Linked DNA regions of Homo sapiens: all the other regions are linked to region 1. Evidence: fine-mapped expression QTL. A gene starts in region 1. Each other region holds a variant in brackets. All regions are shown on one strand. Distances are between the middles of the regions.

Region 1 (8,189 bases):
GATTTGAGTGGCGACATAGCCAAACCATATAACCCTGTCTCGAAAAAGAAAAGAAAAGAACATAACAGAACAGAACTCAGTCTCCAGCTCCCAGCAAGCAGGAAGCCTCATTTTTGCATCTCAGTAAGGATCCTCTGACATGCAAACTTCATCTTTTTCTCCATGTTCCTACTATACATAGAGTGGTCATACATTGTCCAAACTAGAACCTTTTTGAGAGATAAAAGGAAGACACTGAACATGTGAATGAAAAATGGCCAGACCAAATGCAAAAATAGAACTCTGACTCACAATCTGCAGCAACCAGACCAGAAAACCAATATATCATCTACAAGTCAGACATGTAGGAAGTTAGATCACTATCACTAGCAAACAATCCAGGAACCCAGCAACAACCCCTGTAACAAACGGCCCCAGATGGCAAAAACTTTATTAATAAATGATAGCTTTTCTAATTTTTGGACCTGCTGTCAACATAGGACCAAAAAGAAAACCAACTGTGCATCCCAACCAAACACATAGGATGCTCTGCTAGTTCTATTTAGCCCACCTATAGCTTCCCTATGACAACAGTCTTCAGTTAGGGCGTACCTGAAGCCTTCCCCTATTCCCCACCATAAAGTTTTCCCACTCCTCTGCCTGTCTTTGAGGCTCTGCCAAAACACAAGTGATGGTGGCTGACTCCCTTGTTATAGCAAACTCTGAACAAATAGTCTTCACCTCTTCTTATGTATTTGGTCTTCATGTATTTCCACAAAGGGGATACTAGCAATAATTTTGCTGAATCAAAAATCAGGACTGTCCTGAGCAAATCTGGACATAAATCACCCTAGTTATGAAGCACAATTAGACCAGAAGCTGTTTGCTTGTGAAATACTGTATGAGGTTTAGGAGAAAGTGTGAAAGACAAAAGATAAAATACGCCACTACCACTAGGTGGGGTTACACCACCAAAGAATGGAGGATGCTTCAATTAAAAAAGGAAGTGCTTAAAGTGTATATGCACTTAGGTTACTGTTCAGTAATCTTTTTGGTTTTGATGCATGATATTGTAAATCCAAACATTGGAATCAATGTAAAATGGTCTTCAGGGCAATAATTGATGAAATAATTCCAACGAGAAATGTTCAAGCATATTATCATCTAGTATTAATTCACTTTCAATTATTGCCTTCTGCACCTGAAGCAGTAGTGAGATGAACAACACATTCCCTGCCTTTAAGAAGGAGGTGGCTGGGTGCAGTGGCTCATGCCTGTAATCCCAGCACTTTGAGAGGCCGAGACAGGCGAATCACGAGGTCAGGAGTTCAAGACGAGCCTGGCCAATATGGTGAAACCCTGTCTCTACTAAAAATACAAAAATTAGCTGGGCATGGTGGCATGCACCTGGAGTCCCAGCTACTTGGGAGGCTGAGGCAGAAGAATCGCTTGAACCCGGGAGGCGGAGGTTACAGTGAGCCAAGATCGTACCACTGCACTCTAGCCTGGCAATATAGTGAGACTCCACCTAAAAAAAAAAAGAAGAAAAAGAAGAAGAAGGCAGCATTCTAGAGTACTTCAAGTTTACATATGAATGGCTGGTTACATAATTTGTAAGACCCAGTGCAAAATGAAAATAAGGGACAGCTTATTCAGAAAGCATTTCAAGATGGCAACAGTACAGCATTAAACCACCTGTGGGGCCCTTCTGAGCACAGGGCCCTGTGTGACTGCAGAGGTCACATACCCATGAAGTCAACCCTAAGTGTAGGATAGTATTCTATGACAAATTATAGACTAATAAACTATATTGCCTAGTACATGTCATGATACTACTAGGCCTTTCAATGTGGTTGTTTATTTGTTCGTTTTTTTGAGATGGAGTTTTGCTCTTGTTGCCCAGGCTAGAGTGCAATGGCGCAATCTCAGCTCACTGCAACCTCTGCCTCCCAGGTTCAAGTGATTCTCCTGCCTCAGCCTCCCAAGTAGCTAGGATTACAGGCATGGGCCACCACACCCGGATAATTTTGTATTTTTAATAGAGACAGGGTTTCACCACATTGGTCAGGCTAGTCTTGAACTCCTGACCTCAGGTGATCCACCTGCCTCTGCCTCCCAAAGTGCTGGTAGTATAGGCATGAGCCACCATGCCTGGCCTCAGTGTGTTTTCATTCTATGTTGGACATTTGGCATGCACAGAATTACATTTCATTTTAAAAATTACTGAGCATTGACTACATTTGTACTATATGCTGTAGGGAATCTTTGCTAACATTTAATCAAGCACATAAATACCTAATCAAATTTTTTAAATGTTATAAAAAGTTAGTTATAATTCTTCCACTTTTCCCCACAAGCCTAAAGCGCAGAGCAGAGACTGAAACTGGTAGGCACTCAATAAACACTTGTTGAATGAATGCAAGAAGGCTGGAAAGTCCAATATCAAGGAGTTGTTATTTGGTGAGGGCCTTCTTGCTGTGTCATCCCATGGCAAAAGGCAGAATGGCAACAAAAGAGCCAAATTTTATTCAGCCTTAAAAGTGAAGGAAAGGCCAGGTGCGGTGGCTTATACCTGTAATCCCAGCACTTTGGGAGGCCAAGGCAGGTGGATCACCTCAGGTCAGGAGTTGGAGATCAGCCTGGCCAACATGGCAAAACGCCATTTCTACTAAAAATACAAAAAATTAGCCGGGTGTGGTGGTACACACCTGTAGTCCCAACTACTTGGGAGGCTGAGGTGGTAGAATCTCTTGAACCCAGGAGGCGAAGGTTGCAGTGAGCTGAGATTGCGCCACTGCACTCCAGCCTGGGCAACAGAGCAAGACTCTGTATCAAAAAAAAAAAAAAAAAAAAAAGAAAAGAAAGAAGGAAATTCTAACACATGCTATATGAGGGCATTAAGCTAAGAAACAAGCCAGTCACAAAAGTCAAATACTGGAAGATTCCACTTATATGAGGAAGTTAGTGTAGTCAAAATCATAAAGACAGTAAGTAGAATGGTAGTTGCCAGGGGCTGGGGGGAGGGAGGAATGGGGAGTTATTTTTTAATTAGTATAGAGTTTTAGTTGTACAAGATGAAAAGAGTTCTGGAACTAGATGGCAGTGATGGTTGCATATTATGAATGTATTATCACTAAACTGCACACTTTAAAATGTTTAAGATGGTGAATGTTCTTATATTTTACAACTAAAAAAATAAAAAATAAAACTACACATAGTGAAGAAGTAGGAAATGAAGTTGCAACCAAACGGATCAATATTTTGAGTGGGAAATCTAATACTTAATTCAGTGCTAATTTTTATATTTTTAGTAGAGACAAGGTTTCACCATGTTGGCCAGGCTGGTCGTGAACTCCTGACCTCAAGTGATCTGCCCGCCTCGGCCTCCCAAAGTGCTGGGATTACAGGTGTGAGCCACCGTGCCCGGCCTCACGCCCTTCTCTTAATTCCATTTTCTCTCCCCTCTGCCCCTTAATACACTGCACTTAACCTTGTCATAAGCCAAGGAGGACCTGAAATAAGAATACTCAAAACACGGTTGAAATAAACAAGAAGACAGAAACTAAAGCCAGCATTTTTTTTTTAATGCTTGGTAACTGTCCCTTTGTGTCTCCCTAAGTGCAGGATAAACTTCTTGGGGCAAATACAAACGTTTGATAAAATTCTGGGCCAAGGAGTCCTGCACTGGATATATTCAACAAATTACCTGCCGATGATAACAGCGTAAGTCAAACGAGTTCTAAAAGTAACAAATGACTTAGTTATCTGGATAAATCCGTCCTTCCTTTTCTTTTTCACCTAGCCCTTTTGTCGGGCCTCTAAAATGTAAGATAACTACGTGGGAAAGCAAGCAGCGGCTGGTGGTGTGTTTTTACCCTGATTTTATCACTCCAAGTATCTACCGTGGCTGGTTTTGCGAAGACTAGCTTTGTATCAGAATGAGGTGTGGCTGGAACGCCTGAGGAAAGCAAACCAAGTTTTCCAGAGGACGCCGTTGACAGCGTCTCCGCACACCGCGCCGGGGTAGGAACTTCCTCCCACCTGGTTCGCCCGGCGGGGAACCAATAAAGTTGAGCGCGTTCAAAGGGGTCCTAATCTTCCAGGGTCCACTGGGCAGGCCTGCAAAATAAGGCCCCTAGAAACTCCCTGAGGTTTTCAAGTCTTCTCCCTCTCCTCGGAATTTTTTCCCCTTCATTCGCATTACTTTTATTCTGACGGAAACGGCGCGGGCTAGGCCCCAGGAGGGGCGCATTTCAGGTGCAACTGGCCCGGCGATCGCGGCGGGCAACCCCTACGAGGCCCCCGGTTGACTAGGAGCTGGCGGTCCGAGCTGTGGCTTGGAAGACCGACGCGATGAAGCCCAGACCTGCAGGGTTCGTGGATAATAAACTCAAGCAGCGAGTCATCCAGGTGTGTATTCTGCACCGCTTGGCCTCGCCAAGGGCCCCGATCGCTGCCCCAGGGTGCCACTCCCCTTTTGTCGGGTGGCATCCAGGTGGAACTCAACTAGTCTTCTTTCCCCAGTCTGGGTCTGGGCGTGCGTCTGTTTCTCCTTAGTTGGTGCTGCCGGGGCCTTCCCTACCCACGTTGGTGCGGAGTCTCAGGGAGAAGCCGGGGATGGTGGGAGGGTGCAGCTTGGTAGGGCTGCCCAAGTTGTCTGGTCGTCTTCAGCGCAGATCATTCAGTAGAGTGGAGGTAGCCTTTGAATTTTAACCTCTTTGGCTTGTGAAGTTAGCACAGGAATGGTCTTCAAACGCTCGCATTGTAAGAGGTCCTTGAGAAGGGGTGGCATAAATAATATGTTAATTTCCGTTCTCAAGGAACTTACACACTAAAACGAGATAACATGGGTCTGGCAACAGTAACAGGCACTTTGCCTACGGTTTTCTCATTTTCATGACCATCAGTAAAAAGCAGTGTGTGGCAAATACCTCAGAATGTAAGCAAGCAGTCTGAGTTAAAAGGTGGGAGAGAATTTTCTTCACTTAGGAATTTGTGAGCTACACATTCTCCTTGTTTTTCTTTCACTTCACCAGCCCCTAAACAATCTCCTTTTCGGACCCATCTTTTCCTACCAACTTGTAAATGTTGGAAGTGCTCTGTGCCACTGTTCTCTTACCTCCCCTTCCTCCTCTTTCCTCATACACCTTTCTTATCTATCCATACTTCCTATGTGATCTCATTTAGTGTAATAACCTTTGAGTAGTATCTACATACTCTATTATCTATGTATTTATTTCATTTTATTTTTATTTTTCTGAGACATAGTCTCGCTCTGTTGCCCAGGCTAGAGTGCAGTGGCTGTTTATGGGCACAATCATAACTCACTGCACCCTCGGCCTCCCTGACTCAAGTGATCCTCCCTCCTCAGCCTCCCCAGTAGCTGGGACTACAGGTGTGCACCACCACACCTGGCTAATTTATTATTATTATTATTATTTGTAGAGACGGGGTTCCACTATGTTACTCTGGCTGGTCTCTAACTCCTGGGCTCAAGCGATCGGGCCTCAGCCTCCCAAAGTGCTGGGATTACCGGTGCAAGCTGCTGCACTGGCCTCTGTATATTTATGACTGCTAACTTTATATCTCCAGTCCAGATTTTATCTTGAAGTACAGATTGATATATCCAGCTGCCTAGTCAGCATATCTCCAAATTAAAATGGCCAAGTGGAATTTGTGATTTTTTTCTTCCTTCAAATCTGCCCTTTCTTAGTGTTCTGTATCTCAGTAAATGATACTACCGTTCGTCCTGTTGTTAAGGCCAAAAACCTTAAGGATCATTCTGAGTCTTTCATTTCCTGTATACCATCTGTCAACAGCCTGGTTGGCTTTACTTTCAAAATATATTCCAAGTACTTCTTACTGTCTTTCCCTGTAACCATCTTAGTCCAAACCATCATCTCTACCTTATACTATTACAATAGCCTCCTAACTGATCTCTCTGATTCTGCTTTTACCTAAAGCCTATTCCCCACAGAGCAGCCAGAGACATCTAATTTTTTTTTTTTTTTCTGCTCACTGCAACCTCTGCCTCCTGGGTTCAAGTGATTCTCCTGCCTCAGCCTCCCGAGTACGTGGGATTACAAGTGCATGCCATCACGCCTGGCTACTTTTTGTATTTTTAGTAGGGATGGGATTTCACCATGTTGGCCAGGCTAGTCTCGAACTCCTGACCTCAGGTGATCTGCCCGCCTCAGCCTCCCAAAGTGCTGGGATTACAGGCGTGGCCAAGACATCCTTTTAAAGGGAAAAATCGGGCTAGGGGAGGGATAGCATTAGGAAAAATACCTAATGTAGATGACGGGTTGATGGGTGCAGGAAACCACCATGGCACCTGTATACCTATGTAACAAACCCGCATGTTCTGCACATGTATCCCAGAACTTAAAGTATAACTAAAAAAAAGGGGGGGGAAATCAGAGCTTGCCATAGCCCTGCTCAAAACCTTTCAGTGGAGTCACAGACATCTAGAGTAAAACCCAGTCTGAAAAGCCCTGCATATTCTGGCCTCTGTTGTCCTAGTTTACTTTTCCTCTCCTGTCCCAGCCACACAGACCTTCTCAAACATGCCAAGCACAGGACCTTTGTTCTCGTTGTTCAGTCACTCTGAATTACTCTTCCTCTGGATGTTCCCGCGTCCCACAACTTGCTCCTTCACTTTATTGAGGTTTCTGAGCAGTGACTCCTAATTACTGGATCTAGTGGCCTCTTCTCTGTCCTCACACTTGACTCTTTTCAGCGTTTGACATTATCAGTTTTCCTCTATAGCTTTCACTTTGGTTCATTATAAAAGTACAAATGAATATCCCTTATTCTAAATGCTTAAGACCAAAAAATGTTTCAGATTGATTTTTTTCAGGTTTTGGAATGTTTGCATATACATAATGAGATATTTGGGGATGGGACCCAAGTTAAACATGAAGTTTATTTATGTTTCATATACACCTTACACACATAGCCTGAAGATAGTCTTACACAATATTTTAAATAAATTTTCACTTAGCTATATATTTAATTTAATTTTAATTTTTTATTTTTGAGACTGGGTCTAGCTCTGTCACCCAGGCTGGAGTGCAGTGGTGTGAACACTGCTCACTGCCATCTCAAACTCGTGGGGTCAAGTGATTCTCCCACCTCAGCCTCCCATGTAGCTGGGACCACAGGTATGCACCACCATGTCTGGCTAATTTTAAAATTTTTTGTAGAGATGAGATCTTACCACCTTGCCCAGGCTGGTCTCGAACACCTGGACTGAAGCAATCCTCCCGCCTTGGCCTCTCAAAGTGCTGGGATTACGGGTGTGAGCCACCACGCCCGGGCTTATTTATGTATTTATTTTTGAGATAAGGTCTCGTTCTGTTATCCAGGCTGGAGTGCAGTGGCTCGATCATAGCTCACTGCAACCTCTAAGTCTGGGCTTAAGCGATCTCCCACCTTGGCCTCCCAAAATGCTGGGAGTATAAGCACAAGCCACCACATCCAACCAACTTTTTAATTTTTTTGTAGAGATGAGGTCAAACTTTGTTGCCCAGGGTGGTCTCAAACTCCTGGGCTCCCAAAGTGTTGGGATTACAGATATGAGCCACCATGCCCAGCCAAAAGGTGATTTAATATTGAAACTAAATTGCCTCAAGCTAGTAGTTCTGCAGTATCTGACAGATGTCAAATATCACTGTGTTCCTTGAAGTTTAAAATATCCCCTCCTACCCTTATGAGTTTACTGCAGTGTTCTGGGGTGTTTGGAAACCTAGGATATTAGTAAGTAAGCCCTCACTTACTGCCTTATAACTATTCTGATAATTATTAGTATTGTATTATAGTGATTAATAATGTTAATTAAATTTTCTGATTTCATATTTGACAATTATTTGGTTACTTTTATTTATGTTTCTGGTACACTTTATTAACGAAGAGTTTATCTTAAAGTATAATGTGTTCAGATAGCTCAATCTGTTGATTAAAATCACTGAGTTTGAAATATTGGGTGTTTTGTATTTGTTATATTTTCTGTTTTAGTACCTTACCAGTAACAAATGTGGCAAATATGTGGACATTGGAGTCTTAGCGTCTGATTTACAAAGAGTGTACAGGTAAATAAATATAGTTTCCGGATCCTTGGATTTTTATGTCTCCTTTACCATTTTAAAAGTTTATATCCTGCCTAAATTTCCAGTTGATATCAGTAGCTGCTGGCATTAGTTCACCAATCC
Region 2 (8,176 bases), 73 kb after region 1:
CCAGCTACTCGGGAGGCTGAGGCAGAAGAATCGCTTGAACTCAGGAGGCAGAGGTTGCAGTGAGCCGAGATCACGCCACTGCACTCCAGCCTGGGTGACAGAGCAAGACTCTGTCTCAAAAAATATAAAATAAAAATAAAAATTAGCCAGATGCACTGGTGTGTACCTGTAATCCCAGCTACTTGGGAAGCTGAGGCAGGAGGATCACTTGAAACTAGAAGTTTGAGGCCACAGTGAGCTATGATTGCACCACTGCACTCCAGCCTGGATGACAGAGCAAGACCCTGTCTCAAAAAAAAAAAAAAAAAAAAGGAAAAGAAGAAATAAATAAGCAAATTATGATTAGATGTGCAAGCTTCTGCAGGGCAGGGATTCATTCTGCACTTTTATATCTGAGAGATAGGTTCTAGTTAGAGGCTCTGCCCATTCTAAGCGTTTAATAATTATCAGATGAAGGCTGGGTGTGTTGGCTCATGCCTGTAATCCCAGCACTTTGGAAGGCTGAGGCAGACACATCACGAGGTTAGGAGATCGAGACTATCCTGGCCAACATGGTGAAACCCGTCTCTACTGAAAATACAAAAATTAGCTGGCCATGGTGGCGCGTGCCTGTAGTCCCAGCTACTCAGGAGACTGAGGCAGGAGAATCGCTGGAACTCGGGAGGTGGAGGTTGTAGTGATCGCGCCACTGCACTTCAGCCTGGTGACAGAGCAAGACTCCGTCTCAAAAAATAATAGTAATTATCAGATGAAAGAGTGGATGACTCACAGAGAAGGTATTTATTTCATTGTACTAAGATATTTACCACTGAAGTTCCAAGCTAAATAGAGTGTTTCCTTACACATCTAGTCTGGATGCTTTGGGTCATTGTTGAATGCATTTGAAGGTAATTGAACAATGACTTGGTGCCATGGTCAACCCTGTATGTTTTGCCCTTTGGCACAGTACTGCCCTTTTAAAATTAGGTTATGCCCAGCCAGAACTTTGGCTGAGTTATAGATGCTATGATATGTAGTAGAGCTCAATAATTATTTGTTTACGGCTGGATGCGATGGCTCATGCCTGTAATCCCAGCGCTTTGGGAGGCTGAGGTGAGCAGATCACTTGAGGCCAGGAGTTTGAGACCAACCTGGGTTAACGTGGCAAAAATCTCGTCTCTACTAAAAATACAAAAAAAAAAAAAAAAAGTTAGCTGGGTATGGTGGCACACACCTGTAATCCCAGCTACTTGGGAGGCTGAGGCACAAGAATTGCTTGAACCTGGAAAGTGAAAGTTGTAATGAGCGGAGATTGTGCCACTGCACTCCAGCTTGGGCAACAGAAGGAGACTCTGTCTCAAAACAAACAAACAAAAAACATCATTCTTATTATTATTATTTGTTTAATGAATCATGAGTAGAAACCTATTTCATGAAGGTTGTCTGATCTTGTAATTATTTTCAATGGATATATTTATAGTGTTGCTAGTCTGAGGATTCATTTTTTTAAAAAGCTTTACTGAGATGTAAGTGGCATATCGTAAAATTTACCCATTTTAAGTATATCATTCAATGGTTTTGAGTATATTTACATAGCTTTACAGCCATCCCAACAATCTAATCTTAGAATATTTGCATCACCTGGGCCATGTGTGGCTCATGCCTGTAATCCCAGCACTTTGGGAGGCTGAGGCGAGTGGACCACTTGAGGCCAGGAGTTTGAGACCAGCCTGGCCAACACAGTGAAGCCTCGTCTCTACCAAAAACATACAAAATTTAGCAGGGCATGGTGGTGCGCACCTAGAGTCCCAGCTACTTAGGAGGCTGAGGCAGGAGAATCGCTTGAACCTAGAAGGCAGAGGTTGCAGTGAGCCGAGATTGTGCCACTACACTCCAGCTTGGGCAACAGAGTGAGACCCTATCTCAAAAAAAAAAAAATGTTCATCACCCTTAAAAAATCTCATGCCTGTTAGCATTCAGTTTTCCTTTTCTCATCTCCAGCCTTAGGCAACCACTAATCTACTTTCCTTTTTTTTTTTTTTTTTTTTTTTTAATGTAGAGACAGGGTCTCATGTTAACCAGGTTGGTCTCGCACTCCTGGCCTGCAGCATGCCCCCTGCCTTGGCCTCTCAAAGTACTGAGGTTTTAGGCATGTGTCGCTACTGGCCATCATCTACTTTCTGTCTATATAAATTTGTCTATTCTGGATATTTTATGTAAATAGCATTATACAATATGAGGGCTCTTAAATCTGGCTTCTTTAGCATAATGTTTTCAAGATTTATTCATATTATAGAATGTATCAATACTCCATTCCTTTTTATTATGAAATAATATCCCGTTGTATGGATATACCACATTTTGTGTATTCACCAGTTGGACATCTGGGCTGTTTCTGTTTTTTGGCTATTATGAATAATGCTGCTATGAACATTCATGTATGCATTTTTGTATGGACATATGTTTTAATTTCTCCTGGGTCTATACCTAGGAGTGGAATTGCTGGATCATATGGTAACTCCCTGTTTAACATTTTGAGAAACTGCTAAACTCTTTTCCAAAGTGGCTGCATCATTTTTATATTCCCACTAGTAATTTTGACATTAAAATATATGACAGTTCTGATTTATTCACATTCTTACTAATACCTGTTATTGTCTTTTTTTATTATAGTTATTCTAGTGGATGTGAGGTGGTATTTCATTCTGATTTGATTTGCATTTCCCTGATAACTGATAGTGTTGAGCATCTTTTATTGTGCTTGTTGGTCATTTGTATGTCTTCTTTGGAGATATGTCTGGTCATTTTTCAATTAGGTTATTTGCCTTGTCATTGAGTAGTAAGAGTTCTTTGTTCTAGATACAAATCTAAAATCAGATATGTGATCTACATATGTTTTCACCAATCTGTGGGTTGTCTATTCACTTTTTTGATGTCATTTGAAACACAAGTTTTTAATTTTGATAAATTCCAATTTATGTGTTTGTCTTTTACCGCTTGCAATTTTGATGGTGTTATCAATGGTGTAAAAATCATTGCCTAACCGAAGGTCACTAAAATTAACTCCTGCATTTTCTTCTCATAAAATTTTAGCTCTTACATTTAGGTCTTTGATCCATTTTGAGTTAATTTGTTGCGTGTTGTGAGGAAAGTGTGCAAATTGATTCTTTTGAGTGTCAATATCCCTTGTCGGGCCCAGTGCAGTGACTCATGCCTGTAATCCCAGCACTTTGGGAGGCCAACATGGGAGGATTGTTTGAGCTCAGGAGTTCAAGACCAGCCTGGGCAACATAGTGAGACCTCATCTCTACAAAAAATACACAAAAACAAAACAAAATTAAATGGGCATGGTGGTGCATGCCTGTAGTCTTAGCTACTTGGGAGGCTATGGCGGGAGGATTGCTTGAGTCCCGGAGATCAAGGCTGCAGTGAGCTATGATACACCACTGCACTCCAGCCTGCGCTACAGAGTGAGACCCTGTCTCCAAAAAAAGAAACAAACAAACAAACAAACAGACAAACAAAAAACCACTTGTCCTAGCACCTTTGTTGCAAAGATTAATTAGTCCCCCATTGAATTGTCTTGTTACCTTTGTTAAAAATTGAGGGTCCATTTATAACAAAATAATGTTTTCCTAAAGTTAAAAGTTGCTACTGTTACCTCTCAATTTTAACTTTTTTTTTCTTTTTTAATTAATGTTTTTTACCCATGGCAAGCTGTAATAGCTTTTTTGAGGGGAGGTAGGTGCTTTATAAAGAACAGTAGGTGCTGCTTATCAACAGATGAAAGGAGGGTTCTTTTTCAGGCAACCATCTCATTTGTGAGTGAATGCACTTTCTCTTTAAAGTGCTGGGATTGTTAGTGCCATTTTTATTGTAAATATCAGAATTGTTATTTTTTGTCTTCTACCTAAGAATTCTGTCTCTTAGGCTTTCTCTTCCCAGATTTCCCAAAGTTGGGAAAAGCTGGGTTGAGAGGGCAAAAGGAAAAAAAAAGAATTCTGTCTCTGACATAATTAGATAGGGAACCAGTTGGGAAGCTGTAAGAATAATGCAGGTGCAAGGTGGTGGTGGTTTGAGCCGGGTGATAGCTGTGGATGTAGAAGGAATCTGAATATATTGTGTCATAGGGTTGACCTGATTTGCTAATGGAGTAGTTAAGGATGTGGGAAAGTGGAATCAAGCATGGCTCCAAGGTCTGGGCCTGAAAAACCGGGAGAATGAGTTCACATTAACTAAGACGGGAAAGACAATGGTAGGGGCCTGTTTAGGGAAGAGCTAGGAAGAGATTAGCATCTCATTTCTAATGATGTAATACATAGAATCTTGCAGGAGCCTTTAGTGAAGTGTAGTTTAAGTCATCTAATACTAAAATTTATATAAAGTGTCCAGAATGCCTTTTACTGTAAATAACTTATTAAAATAATAAACTGCATAATATTAAGTGTGATATTTGTCAGAGATGTTAAGTGATTATAGGACTCCCAAACTAAGAATGCTTTATAATTATCATCAGTATTCCCCTTTACCTTGGGGCATGTAGAACTGGCTTTAAGATGTGTTTTGTGGGGAGTTTTCTGTGGGTTTTTTTTTTTTTTTTTTTTTTTTAGATGGAGCCTCACCCTGTTGCCCAGGCTGGAGTGCAGTAGCACGATCTTGGCTCACTGCAACCTCCGCTTCCCAGGTTCAAGCGATTCTCCTGCCTTAGCCTCCCGAGTAGCTGGGATTGCAGGCATGCAACACCATGCTCAGCTAATTTTTTTATTTTCAGTAGTTATGGAGTTTCACCATGTTGGCCAAGCTGGTCTCGAACTCCTGACCTCAAGTGATCCACCCGCCTCAGCCTCCCAAAGTGCTGGGATTACAGGCATGAGCCACCATGCCTGGCATGTATTTATATGTTTAAATTAAAAGATGTTTCAACGGCATGGTAATTGGCATAGAGCTGAGACAGATA[A/G]ATAAAAGGAACAGAAAAAAAATCCAGAAATATTCCTATGCATATCTAGATAGTTGATGTATTTAAAAAGCACAAAGGCAATGCAGTGGAGAATGTATAGTCTTTTCAACAATGGTACTGGAGCAACTGAATATCCATATGCAAAAAGAAAAATTGAACCTTAATTCATACCTTTTACCACATACAAAAAATAACTCAAAATGAATCAAAGACCATTGAAAACAACATTATAAAACTCTTGGAAGAAAACACTGGAGAAATTTTTTTCTACCTTGAATTAAGCAAAGATTTCCTATATGATATTAAAAGCGTAAACCATAAAAGAGCAAATAGATAAACTGAACTGCTCTTCAAAAGTGCCAATAAGCCAGGTACAGTGGTACACGCCTGTAAACCCAGCTACTCAGGAGACTGAGGTGGGAGGATCCTTTGAGCTCAGCACTTCGAGGCCAGCCTGGGCAGTGTAGTGAGACCCAGTCTCTTACAAAAATGCAAATAAGAGAATATAAAGATAAACCACAGACTAGGAGAAAATATTTGCAAAGCATATATCTGATAAAGGATTAAAAACTACACCATTTTAGGCCAGGCGCGGTGGCTCACGCCTGTAATCCCAGCACTTTGGGAGGCCCAGGTGGGCGGATCACAAGGTCAGGAGATCGAGACCAACCTGGCTAACATGGTGAAACTCCGTCTCTACTAAAAATACAAAAGAAATTAGCTGAGCATGGTGGTGGGCACCTGTAAGTCCCAGCTACTCTGGAGGCTGAGGCAGGAGAATGGCGAGAACCAGGGAGGTGGAGCTTGCCGTGAGCCAAGATCGCACCACTGCATTCCAGCCTGGACGGCAGAGCGAGACCCTGTCTCAGGAAAAAAAAAAAAAAAAAAAAAACCTACACCATTTTGGGCCAGGCACATTGGCTCATGCCTGTAATCCCAGCACTTTGGGAACCGAGGCAGACGGATCATGAGGTCAGGAGATCGAGACCATCCTAGCCAACATGGTGAAATCCCGTCTCTACCAAAAATACAAAAAGTAGCTGAGTGTGGTGGTGCATGCCTGGAATCCCAGCTACTTGGGAGGCTGAGGCAGGAGAATCGCTTGAACCTGGGAGTTGAGGTTTCAGTGAGCCAAGGTCATGCCACTGTACTCCAGCCTGGCGACAGAGACTCCGTCTCAAAAAAAAAAAAAAAAAACTACACCATTTTAAAAGTAGCCAAAAGGTACTTGAAAATTGCCAAGAAAGTAGATTTTAAGTGATCTACCACAAAAAAAGTAATAAGAATATGAGGTAATGCCTGTGTCAGTTGTCTCAACTTGGCCATTCCACAATGTATACACATTTTAAAAACACATGTTGGCCAGGCACAGTGGCTCACGCCTGTAATCCCACCACTTTGGGAGGCCGAGATGAGCAGATCACCTGAGGTTGGGAGTTCGAGACCAGCCTGACCAACATGGAGAAACCCTGTTTCTACTAAAAATACAAAAAAAAAAAAAACAAAAAAAACAAATTAGCCGGGCATGGTGGTGCATGCCTGTAATCCCAGCTACTTGGGAGGCTGACGCAGGAGAATCACTTGAATCCAGGAGGTAGAGGTTGCGGTGAGCTGAGATTGCGCCATTGCACTCCAGCCTGGGCAACAAGAGCAAAACTCCATCTCAAAAAAAAAAAAAAAAAAATGCCAGGCACTGTGGCTCATGCCTGTAATCCTAGCACTTTGGGAGGCCAAGGCAGGTGGATCACGAGGTCAGGAGTTCGAGACCAGCCTGACCAATATGGTGAAACCCCGTCTCTACTAAAAATACAAAAGTTAGCCGGGCATGGTGGTGGTCACCTGTAATCCCAGCTGCTCAGGAGGCTGAGGCAGGAGAATGAACTTGAACCCGGGAGGCAGAGGTTGCAGTGAGCTGAGATCATGCCACTGCACTCCAGCCTGGGCGACAGAGTGAGACTCCATCTCAAAACAAAAAAAAACATGTTGTACAACCTAAATATATACCATTTTTCTTTGTCAGTTTACAAAATTATTTAATCAACTTTAAACATAAAAATGGCCAAAAGATTTGTACAGTTACTTCACCATAGGAGGTGTACAAATGGCAAACTCATGAAAAATGCTTCACACCATTAGTCACTAGGGAAATGCAAATTAAAGCCACAGTAAGCACTACAAACCTTAGAATAACTAAAAGATTGAAAAGACTGGCTGTGCCAAATGTTGGCAAGGATATGGAGGAACTGGAACTTTCATGCACTGATGATGGGAATGTAATGGTACAAGTAGTTTGGAAAACAGTTTGGCAATTTCTTTTTTTCTTTTCTTTTTTTTTTTTTTTTTGAGACCGAGCCTTGCTCTGTCCCAAGGCTGGAGTGCAGTGGCCTGATCTCGGCTCACTGCAACCTCCGCCTCCTGAGTTCAAGTGATTCTCCTGCCTCAGCCTCCTGAATAGCTGAGATTACAGGCATGTGCCACCACGCCTAGCTAATTTTTGTATTTTTAGTAGAGACGGGGTTTCACCATGTTGGCCAGGATGGTCTCAATCTCTTGACCTTGTGATCCTCCCGCCTCAGCCTCCCAAAGTGCTGGGATTACAGGCGTGAGCCACTCCACCCGGCCAGCAATTTCTTAAAAGTTAAGCATATACCTACAGTTTGATATGGCCATACTACTGGTATCTTACACTTAGGTAATTTACTGAAGAGAAATGAAAGCATATACAGCCTGGGAGCCGTGGCTCAGGCCTGTAATCCCAGCACTTCGGGAGGCTAAGGCGGGTGGATCATGAGGTCAGGAGCTCAAGACCAGCCTGGCCAAGATGGTGAAACCCTGTCTCTACTAAAAATAGAAAACTTAGCCGGGCGTGGGGGGCAGGGGGGCACACTTGTAATCTCAGCTACTTGGGAGGCTGATGCAGAGAACTGCTTGAACCCAGGAGGCAGAGGTTGCAATGAGCCGAGATCGCCCCACTGCACTCTAGCCTGGGTGACAGAGTGAGACTCTGTCATTAAAAAAAAAAGCATATACAAAGACTTGTACAAGAAAATTACTGACACATGAAACAACTTGGGTGAAACCCAAAATGATTATGTTGCATGAAAGAAAGCACAGTACATATTGTATAATTCCACTTACATAAAACTTTAGAAAATGCAAACTAATCTATAGTGCCAAAACAGATAGGTGGCTGCCTAAGGATAAAGGAGAGCAGGTAAGGGCAGGAGAGAAAGGTTACAA
Region 3 (8,189 bases), 92 kb after region 1:
CCGTCTCAAAAAAAAAAAAAAAAAAGAATAGATTTGTATGACCAAATGAAAATATTTGTTAAAATAAAAGTAGTAGCACATCTTGAATTACTTTTTGAACCTGAGTATTTCATAACATATAATGTTTAATACGAATTATAGGAAAATATCAGTGTAAATGAGCCATAACTTTTTTCAGATTTTAGTAAAATACTATAGATACATAACATAAAATTTACCATTTTAGCCATTTTTAAGTATATATTTCTGTGGCATTAAGTACATTCACATTGTTGTGCAACCATCACCACTACTCATCTCCAGAACTTTTGCATCTTCCCAAACTGAAACTCTGTCCCCATTAAACACAAACTGCCCATTCCTTCTTCCCTACCCCTGGCAACCACCATTCTACTTTCTGTCTCTATGCTTTGCCTATTCTAGGTACCTCATACAAGTAGAATCATACAATATTTGTGGGATATAACTTTTTTTTTTTTTGAGACGGAGTTTTGGTCTTGATGTCCAGGCTAGAGTGCAATGGCGTGGTCTTGGCTCACTGCAACCTCTGCCTCCCAGGTTCAAGTGATTCTCCTGCCTGAGCCTCCTAAGTAGCTGGGATTACAGGTGCCTGCCACCACACCTGTTTTTCTTTTTCTTTTTATTTTTTTTTTTTTGAGACGAGGTCTCACTCTTGTTCCCTAGGCTGGAGTGCAGTGGTTTGATCTCAGCTCACTGCAACCTCCTCTTCCCGGGTTCAAGCGATTCTCCTGCCTCAGTGTCCCAAGTAGCTGGGATTACAGGCAACTGCCACCACACCTGGCTAAGTTTTGTATTTTTAGTAGAGATGGTGTTTCACCATATTGGCCAGGCTAGTCTCAAACTCCTGACCTCAGGTGATCCACCCGCCTCGGCCTCCCAAAGTGCTGAGATTACAGGCATGAGCCACCACGCCTGGCCTATAATTTCCTTAAGAGACTATTTTCCTTCTTTTTCTAATAATTCCTTTAGCTTAGCTTTCTATAGTTACCAACCTATTTGAGATTTCCATTAGGGCCTTTATTAAAAAATAATATAATATTATCGTAATAGAGATAATGTCATAAAGAAAAACCAAATTAATTTAAGCTTCTAAATACTTCTAAATATCCTAGTACCATTTCAATAAATGATTTTCCAAAATCCTCATATTTTGTTTTATAAGCTCTTTATTATGCCATTTAAAATTTTTCTCTTTGCTCTCACTTGAGAATAAATAGAATTCATTTTAGTTCTTACTATAAGTCAGAAACATAACCACATTTCAATTAAAGAATAGTTAGATTTCAGTGATCCAAAGATTCCTTAGCCCTTATTTCTACTAATTAGAAAGTAATGTTGCTAATGAAACTTTTGGAGGTATCCTAGGTAGAGCACACCTCATGCCCTCAAAAAAAGGAGAGTTTGGCTGAGCGTGGTAGCTTGTGCCTGTAATCCCAGCACTTTGGGAGGCCAAGGTGGGTGGATCACCAGGTCAGGAGTTTGAGACCAGCCTGGCCAACATGGTGAAACCCATCTCTACTAAACATACAAAAAATTAGCCGGGTATGGTGGTGTACATCTGTAATCCCAGCTACTTGGGAAGCTGAGGCAGGAGAATCTCTTGAACCCGGGAGGCGGAGCTTGCAGTGAGCCGAGATCATGCCATCACACTCCAGCCTGGGCCACAGGGCGAGACTCTGTCTCAAAAAAAAAAAAAAAAAAAAAAAAAGGACAGTTTGTTACTTTCTTTCAAGTGAGGGTACTTGAAATTATTTCTTTTTCTAAAGGTTTAATCTTCTAAGAATTAGGAAACTTCTGAGAGTATCTAAACATATAACAGTGAATTCGTTTTGTGAAGTTCATACCCCACCTCATTTATTTATTGTGTTCCTTTATATACTGAGCTTTCTTTCACAAAAGATTTTTCTTAAACAAAGGATATGCTAAGAATAGGAAGCTGACAATTGCTCCCATTATGCAAATGTGAGGAAAATTCCTCCTCTGCTGGGCGCTGTGGCTCACGCCTGTAATCCCAGCACTTTGGGAGGCGGAGGCGGGCAGATCACAAGGTCAGGAGTTTGAGACCAGCCTGACCAACATGGTGAAACCCCGTCTCTACTAAAATACAAAAACTACCCAGCGTTGGCTGGGCACGGTGGCTCACGCCTGTAATCCTAGCACTTTGGGAGGCCAAGGTGGGTGGATCACCTGAGGTCAGAAGTTCAAGACCAGCCTGGACAACATGGTGAAACCCCATCTCTACTAAAAATACAAAAAATTAGCCAGGCGTGGTGGCGGGCAACTGTAATCCCAGCTACTTGGGGGGCTGAGGCAGGAGAATCGCTTGAACCTGAGGGGCGGAGGTTGCAGTGAGCTGAGATCGCACCACTGCACTCCAGCCTGGGCCTGTGACAGTGAGACTCCGTCTCAAAAAAAAAAAAAAAAAAAAAATTACCCAGCGTGGTAGCGCATGCCTGTAATCCCAGCTACTCGGGGCTGAGGCAGGAGAATCGCTTGAACCTGGGAGGCGTAAGTTGCAGTGAGCCGAGATTGCGTCACTGCACTCCAGCCTGGTGACACAGCGAGACAGAAAAAAGAAAAATTCCTCCTCTGGGTCCTCACAAAGAGAACACTAAGATGCGATGCACAATGTCTTTAACGGTATTTCTGACACAAACACAATAAGCCTCTTGGGACTGAGGCTTGTCATTTTCTTAATATAAACTGAGGGTATTACACAAAGCCAGTTCATTAAATACAATTTGATGAAGGTCCAAGAAATGCACTCTGAGGATGCACAGGACCTTGTGGAGGTCCAGCTTAACCCAAGGGTAGAATTTAGATATTGAGAAGTATAAAAGAATTGTCTTCTTATGATTCAGCTTTTGATTAAAACAGGGCACTGGATAGTTTGAGATTAGATTGTCTAACAGCACGCGGAGTGTCCTTAGGGAAGATCCGTACAGTTAATGTGACAGTGTGACAGTCGAGGTAAGTTGATAGGTTCTTAAAATCATAGAAAGCACCTAACAAGGGCTCCTACATAATGTGGCAGCCCCACCACCATAGCAAGAAAGTCTACGCTAGTCTTCATTTTAAGAAATCACTATTATATGTTCACTGATGCCCCCCTCCCCTCTCAAATATAGCACAAAATTATATATACTCATCTGGAAATAAGATACTTATCTATTAAGATACTTTAAAAAATTAAATAATAAAGATTAACAAAGTTCTATAAGGGCCATTCAGTTGCAAATTTGAACTTTAGAACTCAGGTTTTCTAATTCCTCGCCCAGTGTTACTTGCACTGTTTAGGTCTTTTTATTGAAGTATGATACACCTACAGAAAAGTGGTAAATGTAAAGTAGATTTAGAGATTCAAGAAAGAAATTAAAAAGTGGTAAATGTCCAGCTCCATGAATTGTTACAAAGTCTCCAGATCAAGAAAGAGAACACTCCAAGTCTAATTCATAGAACTATGAAGTACAATGGTGACTGCCAGAGGTTGGGAGGCGGGGGCAGGAAGAATGGGGAGTTAGTGTTTAATGGATGCATTGTTTTCTTTGGGAAGATAAAAGAGTTCTGGAGCCGGATAGGGGTGATACAACAATGTGGATGGACTTAATGCCACTGACCTGTACACAGAAAAATGGTTGAAATGGTCAGTTTTTTGTATGTTTTGCCACAATAAAATAGAACATTCCCACACCGACAAAAGCTGCCCTTCTACTTCCAGCCACTACCCACTTCTACCTGCCCCCAGGATTGACCACTATCCTGACTCGGTTGAAAATTGTTTACACTAAAAGATGCTTAGCAATCCTACATTCTGACCCTTTAGTTTTATTACTTAGAGAAAAAAGCACAAGATTGTTTGCCTAAGATCATAGTTTGTGTCCCAGGTCAAAATGGATTGAATGGGAAATTAACTGTTTCTTGAACCTGTGGTAGATAACATGTCCATTTTATTTAGTGATAGCAACTAACAGATGTATAATTTATGCAGTTCTTGAACATGCCCTGCTGGGAGGCAGTGAGACGCTGGTATGTGAGTGTGGGCAGAGCAACAGGTAACTAGTGCACAAGGCCGGCAGCTCCAGTCCTCTCAGCCAGGTCGCCGAACCCTGTGCCTGGAGCACTTTGCCAGGCTGACGTTTTACACTAAGAAAAGCTTACTGGGCAGGTGCTGTGGCCCTCACCTGTAATCTCAGCACTTCGGGTGGCCAAGGCGGGCAGATCGCTTGAGCTGAGGAGTTTGAGATCAGCCTGGGCAACATCGTGAAACCCCATCTCTACAAAAAATACAAAAATTAGCCAGGTGTGTGGTGGGTGCCTATAGTCCCAGCTACCCAAGAGGCTGAGGTGGGAGGATGGCTTGAGCCCGGGAGGTGGAGGTTGCAGTAAGCTGAGATTGCGCCATTGCACTAAGCCTGGATGACAGAGCCAGACCCTGTCTCAAAGAAAAAAAAAGAAAAGAGAAAAGCTTAATGGCTTGTGTTTATTCACTTTTGTGTGTGTTTCTTCTTTTTTTTTTTTTTTTT[TTTTTTTGAA/A]ACCAAGTCTCCAACTCTCCAACTGTCACCCAGGCTGGAGTGCAATGGTGCGATCATGGCTTACTACAGCCTCCACCTCCCGGGTTCCAGTGATTCTCCTGCCTCAGTGTCCCGAGTAGCTGGGATTACAGGCACACGCCACCCCATCGCTCCTAGGAGACAGAGGTTGCAGTGAGCCAAGATCGCACCACTGCACTCCAGAGCGAGACTGTCTCAAAAAAAAAAAAAAGTAGCCAGGCATGGTGGCATGTAGTTCCAGCTCCTCGGGAGGCTGAGGTAGAAGGATCTCTTGTGCCGAGGAGGTCAAGTCTGTTGTGGTTGTTCCACTCACTCCTGCCTGGGCGACAGAGCAATACCCTGGAGGGAAGAAAAAGCTTGTTTTGTTTGCCTCTGCAGTTTGTCACTAAAAATATTATTAAACATAATGTATGCATGCAAGTTACTGGGTTAAGTGTTAAAATTCTGGGTTGGTTTTTTTTCCTCTACATCCAGTCTCATGAGAAATTCTAAGAGTTCTAAGTTACATACTTGTCATTGCTAATGTGTCTTGAAATGAGCTGAAGGGGAATTGGCACCAAAATCAAGATTGAGTGTTAGCTAAATGATTAAGAAAGAATATACTGAGCTTAGAGTGCTTTGTGCTTTTATTTTAGAGCAGATACTGCTCCTTCTCTCCTGGCCAGGTTCAGTATTATTTCTTCCGTCCTAGCCAGCCTCACACCAACACTAAGCATTGCTTAAGTATTTGCCATGTTTAAGCTGGAAAGGAAATGTGTTTCTTCACCTTTGGAAAGATCGAGGTGCTAGTTTTCATTCTTGTTGATGGTGTTTAGTATTTGCTGCAGCTGTACACAAATTCCTCAAACTTCATGAGCATAAATTGTTTGCCTTTAGCTTTCTCAAGTTTGGAATCTGCTTCTTAGCCTCATTTCTCAACATTGAAATTTGTATAAACCTTAACAGCACCAGTCTGGAAGTCAGTTATACTCATTTAGTCAAACAGCCATTATTAAGAACCTATTATGTAGATGAATATGGTCTTTATCTTTGAGACTCAGTCTCACTCTGTCGCCCAGGCTGGAGTGCAGTGGCATGATCTCTGCTCACTACAACCTCCACCTCCAGGGCTTGAGCAATTCTCGTGCCTCAGCCTCCCGAGTAGCTGGGACTACAGGTGCATACCATAACGCCCAGCTAATTTTTGTATTTGTAGTAGAGATGGGGTTTTACCATGTTCCACAGGTTGGTCTCGAACTCCTGACCTCAGGTGATCTGCCCACCTTGGCCTCCCAAAGTGCTGGGATTACAAGCATGAGCCATCGCACCCGGCATGGTCTTTAAAGCTCCAATGAAAAATCATTTTTCTCTCTTACTTAGAATGGTACCAAACCACCACTGGATGCAGATGTAAATTTGGAAGCAATTGCTGGTGACCTTCGCTGTGATTGCTATACGTAAGTGTTTAAATCTTAAGTCAATTCACTCTCTGGGGTTCAATTTCCTCATCTATAAAATGAGGGGTGATGATGCTCACCTCAGCAGATTGTTGGGAGGATTAAATGAGGTATCCCATGAAGCACATAAAGTGTCTGGCATCTCCCTTCTTAGAGAAGAGACTGCACATTTGGAGGCCCTGAAGGAATTCCTGGGAACAGGGGAGTCCTTTCATATGTTGACTCTTGGTACTTAACCTACCCTAACCAGCACTGCTGTCCTTTACAAATTGTACTGGTGCGTCAGCATTTAAAAGAGACTAATCTACAAGTGCCACATTTTGCAGCCCTCAGGATGCATTTTCACCTCCACATAGCCTGTAGTAACATCAGGAAATCTGACATTTCTGCCTTCATCCTTCCTATGTTTGTGTTGTTACAGTTATTAGTTTTTCTTCATATGTTTTGAAGTAAATTTGTTTGTTAACTTTCCCAATTTGGGGACACAGAGGGAGGAAATGAAACTCAAGTTTAACTAACAGAGACAATGCCCCCTCCGGCTTTTTGTTTTCTTTTTTTTCTTTTTTTTTTTTCCATACAGGGTTTCCCTCTTTCACCCAGGCTGGAGTACAGTGGCATGATCATGGCTCACTGTAGCCTTGACTTCCTGGGCTCAAGCAATCCTCTGACCTCAGCCTCCTGGATAGCTGGGACTACAGGTGCATGCTACCATCCCCAGCTAATTTTTTTAAAAAATTTTTGTAGTTTTAGGGTCTCGCCATATTGCCCAGTCTTGTCATGAACTCCTGAGCTTAAGTAGTCCCTCATGCCTCAGCATCCCAAAGTGCTGGGATTACAGTGAGCCACCACACCCGGCCCTTTTTTTTTCTCTATTATGTCCTTCCAATGTAGCAGTGATTCTCAGTGAAGAGAAACTGATCAGAGTCTCAGGCAGGGGTGGTGAGGGGCAGATGTAAATGCCTCTACCTCCCCTTAAATAGGATGTGCCTCACCCCCTAATTAGGAATCAAATCCATACGAGTCTTTATTTAAATGATGTGGCCAGGCACAGTGGCTCACGCCTGTAATCCCAGCACTTTGGAGGCTGAGGTGGGCAGATCACTTGAGGTCAGAAATTTGAGACCAACCTGGCCAACATGGTGAAACCTTGTCTCTACTAAAACTACAAAAATTAGCCGGGCATGGTAGTGCACACCTGTAATCGCAGCTACTAGGGAGGCTGAGACAGGAAAATTGCTTGAACCCAGCGGGTGGAGGTTGCAGTGAGCTGAGATCGTGTCACTGCACTCCAGGCTGGGCAACAGAGCGACACTCCATCTCAAAAAATAAAAATAAATAAAATTAAAAATAAAGAAATGGCCTTATGCTTAGGAGACTACTACTTGAGTAGTTTACTGCTTTAAGGGTGGGAGCAGTGGCTCACACCTGTAATCCTAGCCCTTTGGGAGGCCAAGGCAGGCAGATTGTTTGAGGCCAGGAGTTCAAGACCAGCTTGGGCAACATAGTAAGACCCCATCTCTACAAAAAAAATAATAATAATACAGCTTTAAGTGCTCAAATCTGAAAAGATTTTCGGTGAGTAACAGGTGATTTTGGTGGCGGAACTTGCCCTGGGCTAAATCTTTTGGATATACCAAGTAGGCTATCAGTCTGTGAAGGGGTTAGGGCTAAAGTTGAATGGTGTACATTTTGGATTTTCATGCCACTATAATTACAGTTTGAGAGACACTACACCACTACAGTCTATAGCTATCTGCTTGTGTTAGTTAATGGTGTTTCCACCAATGTTAGATTTCATAGTATGGGAAGGAATGAATACCCCAGCAGGTATGTGATTATTAAATAATGTTATAACCCTAACATTTAGCCAACAAAACACCAGATTCAGTTAAAAATTTAAGCTCTGTGGGTCTTTACTTTTATATAGTATGTGTCTGAGGCAGGAGAATCACTCATACCCAGGACGCAGAGGTTGCGGTGAGCCAAGATCACACCACTGCACTCCAGCCTCGGTGACAGAGCAAGACTCCATCTCAAAAAAAAAAAAGTTATATAGTATGGGGATTATCAACATTATATAATAAGTTTAATGTCCAGAGATGAGGTTTTTTAAAAAAATTTATTTTTCATTTTCATCTTTTCTTTCCAAGACTTGTGAATCATAGAAGTGATGTTTTTATCC

What was found. PIP is the estimated chance that this variant, and not a neighbour inherited with it, causes the effect.
Region 2: its variant is the best candidate, but not a certain one, in a credible set for the expression of NVL in transverse colon (GTEx, PIP 0.73).
Region 3: its variant is the best candidate, but not a certain one, in a credible set for the expression of NVL in B cells (Schmiedel 2018, PIP 0.74).

What each region holds. Positions count from the first base shown.
Region 1 is chr1:224,326,271-224,334,459 of GRCh38, reverse strand. NVL (nuclear VCP like) reads left to right here and starts at 4,288. Exons shown (of 23, transcript NM_002533.4): 1 at 4,288-4,389; 2 at 7,996-8,069. The coding sequence starts at 4,333. RefSeq lists enhancers at 119-413, 4,071-4,220, 4,241-4,290, 4,481-4,530, 4,581-4,720.
Region 2 is chr1:224,252,835-224,261,010 of GRCh38, reverse strand. All of the region lies in intron 18 of NVL (nuclear VCP like), which reads left to right. It overlaps MIR320B2 (microRNA 320b-2), which reads left to right and starts at 3,901; the gene lies at 3,901-3,971. RefSeq lists a silencer at 3,970-4,264 and an enhancer at 5,376-6,301. The variant A/G (reference allele first, on the strand shown) is at 4,937.
Region 3 is chr1:224,234,324-224,242,512 of GRCh38, reverse strand. It overlaps NVL (nuclear VCP like), which reads left to right. Exons shown (of 23, transcript NM_002533.4): 20 at 5,931-6,007. Among named protein-coding and RNA genes, the nearest start is that of MIR320B2, 19 kb to the left of the region's middle. The variant TTTTTTTGAA/A (reference allele first, on the strand shown) is at 4,545.